2 separate regions of the Homo sapiens genome follow, and region 1 is linked to region 2. A link means that fine-mapping ties the variant in region 2 to the expression of a gene that starts in the linked region. Tissue or cell type: transverse colon. Region 2 holds a variant in brackets; the other region holds the start of a gene. All regions are shown on one strand. Distances are from middle to middle.

What was found. PIP is the estimated chance that this variant, and not a neighbour inherited with it, causes the effect.
Region 1: THY1 starts here. The variant in region 2 is fine-mapped to the expression of THY1 in transverse colon (GTEx, PIP 0.97).

Annotation. Positions count from the first base shown.
Region 1 is chr11:119,421,776-119,424,529 of GRCh38, reverse strand. It overlaps THY1 (Thy-1 cell surface antigen), which reads left to right and starts at 1,358. Exons shown (of 4, transcript NM_006288.5): 1 at 1,358-1,417. All of the region lies in intron 2 of USP2-AS1 (USP2 antisense RNA 1), which reads right to left. RefSeq lists enhancers at 1,480-2,045, 2,046-2,612.
Region 2 is chr11:119,459,710-119,462,463 of GRCh38, reverse strand. The region is part of intron 2 of USP2-AS1 (USP2 antisense RNA 1); the gene reads right to left. Among named protein-coding and RNA genes, the nearest start is that of THY1, 38 kb to the right of the region's middle. The variant C/T (reference allele first, on the strand shown) is at 1,110.

The DNA.
Region 1 (2,754 bases), 38 kb after region 2:
ACCAAGCGAATCTCCTCCCACTTGCAAGCTTCCAACAGTGGCTTCCAACAGTGCCACTGCAGTATCAGAAACTGCAGGGAAGGTGCCAGGGCTGACTTCCATGAAGAAATAGGAGAACAGGCAGGCAGACATTGGGGAGGCCCACAGAATGTCGTGATCAGAATTCATAAAGAGGCTGGCAGGATACAAATCAATCAAATAAACGTTAGTTCAAAAAAATTCACTACACCTGTGAGTGAGAGAAAGTCATCAGCACTGTCTCTAAAAATGAGCCTAGGGCTTCTGGTGACATCCAATCGGTGGGTTATCAGGAGTGCCCCAGGTGATCAGGAGTTGGCCTCGACTCAGTCCTTTTTGTGCTGTCTCCTCCTCTTTCCCAGAGTTCCTCTCTCTCTTCTCCCACTAGGCAGGGATGAGCAAGAGGAATGGCTCACCCTTGAGAGCTGGGGTCCATAGCCCAGGTCAGTTCTCCAGCTCTCCCACTTACCAGCCAAGACAGGAGGTGAGGATTGAGATGGGATGAACCCAGCAGGCGGCCATGGGTTAAAGGTCGCCATGAATGTAATGTGCCCAGCACAGTGCCTGCTAAAAGGCAACACTCCCTTCCTGGTCTGAAGACCAAACAAGCAGACTGTACTCAGGAAAGCCAGAAGAACCTTCCAGCTGTCTGGACCAGAAGGTGCCAGCCCAGGGGCTGAAGAAGACGTAATGCCCAGAGCAAAAAGCGCCTGCAGCCCCCTGAAGGGCTGGGTGCTCTGGAATAGATGAGGGGGCGAAATGGGGCTGGGGACCAGGGACGGACAGGGTGGGTCCAGCACCTGCCTCGCTTCCGAAGGGCTGCTCCAACACTGAAAAACACCCAACCAGCTTCCTTTCAGAAAGACTGGAATATTCCAAAACTTCTCACTGGAGGCTCCGGAGGAGGTGGGCTCCAGCTGAAAAGGAAATGTGGAGGCGTGGGCGCTCCCGGCCTGCATCCTGCACCTCTTACACTTTGGTTTTCCCACAGACTCCTGAAGAATAGGTCAGAAGAAAGGGTTAAAGCCTTAAAAGGGGAACAACCATTGCGGGGCTCAGGGAGGAGGATAATGTTCTTTGGGCTGCCGCACCCTGATCCCCGGGGTCCCGAACCCTCCCGTCCCTGGCCAGGCCTGCCAGCCACAGGGTGAGGGCCCCCTTCCGCCGCAACCTGCCACTCTCACACCAATGCGGGACCGCCTTCTCTTCCTTCCCCACCCCCCACCCCACCCTGCCGTCCTTTCTCCCCCAATCTCCGCCTCTGATTGGCTGAGCCCCCGGCTCCCCGCTCCCCCTCTCCTCCATCCCCGGTGAAAACTGCGGGCTCCGAGCTGGGTGCAGCAACCGGAGGCGGCGGCGCGTCTGGAGGAGGCTGCAGCAGCGGAAGACCCCAGTCCAGGTGGGAACTGGAGCCGGTGGGACCTGGGGCTCGGGGACCGCCGTCAGGCGCCCATGCAAGACTTCCCAACACTAGGCTTCGGGCCACGGTCCGAGGGCGCCCAGGGAAGAAGGGCGCAGAGCTTAGGGAGGGGCCTGCTTTCCAGGCAGGGGCGGGAGGGGGATGCTTCTGCAGGGCAGGGGCCGCGTGGCACCCTGATGTCTTTCGGGGAAGGCGCTCCCGGGCTTTCGCCCGCTGGGGGACTGGTGTCTGGGGCTGGGGCGCTGGAGAACAGGGAGGAAGGGCACCAAGGACAGCCTGTGGGTCTACATTCCACCCAGACGTCCCCAAACCCAGCTCGCAGAGGCGGGGAGGAGGACGGATGAAACTGCGGGGAGAGGATGGAGGATGGCGAGCTAGAGGGAATCTGCCGGGTGACCTCGCGGCGGGCTGGGTGCGGGGCACCGGAGGAGAAGGAAGCCGCAGTGCCGCAGGCGGGGACTGGGTGGAAGGCGGGCGGACGGGGGAGGGGAGAGCTGGAAAAGGATGAGAGAGGGGGAAGGGGGACTCATTTGGGAAAGGAGAGGATTGGAATACGGAAATGGATTAAGGATGAGGCCCGCCGGGGGCTTGAGAGGGAGGAAGAGCAGACCTTCTCTGGGTCTGGAGCCGCCTGAGGACACAGACCAGAGGAAATGAATACAGACTGCACCTCCCCAGCCGCTCTCCACCCCTCCCCTGGCTCTTCTACCCTCTCCAGCCCCAGACCCATTTCTTCCCTTTCTTGCTCTGGCCATTGCTCCCCCTTCCCCTCCTAGATCCCAAGCCCGCACAACATCTCAAACAAGAGTCCTCGATTCAAAAGCCAGATGCCGACCCCCCTTCCTCCTGGATCTGGCTCAGGGCAGCAGCTCCACCCCGGGACAGAGAGAGCATTGATTGTAGCTGCAGCCGCCGCGGGATCCTAGCCTCACCCGTCAAGGGGCTGAGCGCCAGGGACCCTGAACTCGTCTAGTGGTGCGCCCTGCGCACCCGGGCGCACTCAACCGAGGCAATGCCCTGCGCGCTCTCGCGGGTGCACGCCCCTTCTGTGGCCTCTCCTGGGCGAGCACTGCTCTGCAGATAGGCTAGACTACCGGCTCCGCGTCGCCTCGCCAAGGGTTGGTTCAGCCAAGGCTGCAAAAAACAAAAAAAGACCAGGCAGACAGCCTATCCAGGGTGGCTATTGAAACTGGGCTGGAAAACTGCAGTCCCAGGAACTCCAGAGAGCTGGACATTGGGAAGCATCCTTGGCTCACATACAATCGGAGATCACTATGTCTTTCTCTCCTCCAGGAACACGATTAGCTTGTGTCCTA
Region 2 (2,754 bases):
GACAGTCGCTTGAACCCAGGAGGCAGAGGTTGCAGTGAGCTGAAATTGTGCCACTGTACTCCAGCTTGGGTGACAGAGTGAGACCCTGTCTCAAAAAAAAAAAAAAAAAAAAGCCAGGCATGGTGGCTCAAGCCTGTAATCCCAGCACTTTGGGAGGCTGAGGCAGGAGGATCAACTGAGGTTAGGAGTTCGAGACCAGCCTGGCCAACATGGCGAAACCCTGTCTCTACTAAAAATACAAAAATTAGCTGGGCATGGTGGCATGTGCCTGTAATCCCAGCTACTTGGGAGGCTGAGGCAGAAGAATCTCTTGAACCCAGGAGGCTGAGATTGCAGTAAGCCAGGATCGTGTCATTGCACTCTAGACTGGGTAACAAGAGCAAGACTCCGTATCAAAAAAAAAAAAAAAAATCAAGATGCAAACAATGCCTTGTCCTAACAAATGGCCTCATGACCCTCTGGTGCCACTGAAGCTGGGGAGTGGAAAACAGCTAAAGAAGGATTGCAGTGGCCAGCCAAGCTTGTGTCACTGTCTGTGTTTCTCCCTTCTACAGGCTTATTTGATGTTGTCTGAGGAAATTGTTCTCTGGGGCCCCCAAGGCAAAGCTATGTCCCAGGGACAAGAGAGGTGGAAGAAGGTGGTCTCTGTGATGGGCCAGAGCCAGGGAGAGAGCCCTGGGCAGGAGGGGGAACAAGAAGCAGCTGTCCTTGCCCCTGGCACCTGGGCTGGTTTCATGTTACTTCCTATGTTTATTTCCCCTTTGTCATTCCTGAACCTTGAACAATATTGTGTTAAGTACCCCAATCTTGACTCAGCTGTATTTAGGGAAATTGAGGCAATGATCCCAGGTGAAACCTGGGCTGGGCCAGCCACCTAAAGCCAGCAGGGAGTGGCCATAGAGCCCTGTATCAGAGAGCCAAGGGGAGCAGAATCCCGGAAGACAAATGAGACTTCAGAATCCAATCTTGAGTCGTAAATGCTAAGCCTGGAGAATTGAGATTTGATTTTATTACGAGTCAGTTCCTGTACAGATCATCTCCCTACAGCTCAGATCTGCTCTCTGGCTTTTCCCTACCATGAGGTCTCCCAAAGGCCACATCACTCAGAG[C/T]TTTCTTCCATTCCCTTCTCTAAGGGTCGGGGCAAACAGGGAGTTTTCCATTGATGGGAAAAATCTTCCCATCCTTTTTTACAGCCCAACTCTGCTCTGCCCAAGAGCAAGCCTGCAGTCATCCAAACATGATTATAAATATATTCATACACAGATTCCACTCCTCAAAGTTCTCTCACCGTGGAATGGGTTTATGCCAACAAGGTTATACAGTCAGCCCCCATATCCGTGGATTCTGTGTCCATAGATTCAACCAACCAAGGATTGAAAATATTTGGGAAAAAATTGCATCTGTACTGAACATGTACAGACTTTTTTCCTTGTCATTATTCTGTAAACAATACAGTATAACAATTATTTCCATAGCATTCATATTGTATTAGGTATTCTAAGTAATCTAGAGATTATTTAAAGTATACAGGAGGATGTGTGATGTAAGGTATACAGGAGGTTGCATGCAAACACGACACCGTTTTATATCAGGAACTTGAACATCTGTGGATTTTGGTATCTGCAAGGGGTACTGGAGCTAATCCCCCACACATACTGAGTGACGACTATATATGGAATGTGAACAGAATTTTCCCACTGACTTCCATTAGGCAAGCAGAGCTGTGTTTCTCTCCAAGAAAGGAGGGTAGAGGAGCAGAGCCTGGGAGTGGGAAAAGAAGGGAAGGAGGCCAAACGGAGATCTCATTACTCCAGGATGTGGTTTTAATTCTGTCCTTCTCTCACAGCCTCTGCCCCACCCTCTGTTTATTAAGGGGGCCAAATTAAATACACGAGATATAACTGCAACATGGAGACCCTGCCTCAGTCTCCAGAGACTGTGGGGTGCAGGGGAAAGTGGTGGGGGGGAAACCAAAACAAACAAACCACAAATCCAGAAGGAGAGAGAAGGCAGAAAAGCAAACTATCAGGGCCCATTTGAACAACTCGGACCCTGCCTTCTGTCTGTAAGAAGGGGCCCCGCCCATCTCCTGTGGCAGCCACCCCACCTGAGTGCGCTGGGAGGGCTCTCCGGCCCACAGAGCCACCTCCTGGCCTGCAAGGCCCCAGCCCTTCGGGAGTGACCAGACCTGGCCAGCGACACGCTATTCTCCATCACTCGCTACCGTGCTCATCCTGCGCTGTCAGGCCATCTCTCTGCAATTCATCCCCTCCCTTTCTAGCCAATTTTCCACCTCCACACCTCGTCCCTCCTTTTCCTCCTCATCCTAATCCAGGATGTCCTTTGGCCTGTCTGTTTGATGCTTTCCCTCCGTCAAGCTCCAGCTCAAGTCTTTCCTCCTTCAGAGACAACTGGGACCCTCCAGGCAGCCCCGACTAACTCCCTGCCTGACCCGCCCACGAAACCTTCAGCCTTTGCCTCTTGCCTCCCTCCTCTCCCTCTCCCCACCTCAAAGCCACTCTCAGCCAATGGCTCCTTCCCCATGGCGTAGAACCTGCACACAGCACTTCATTTTTTAAGTCCTCCTCCCATGACCTTGAATCTTCTCAACAGTCTGTCCAGTGCCCTCTGGGCCTTGCTTTTCCAGCCGCACCACAAAGACTGCCATGACCTTTGGAGCCTGGTCCAGTGACACAAGCTTCCTGCCGACTGCTCCGCAGTGCCCGGTGCCAGCCACAGCCATGCCCTCGGCTT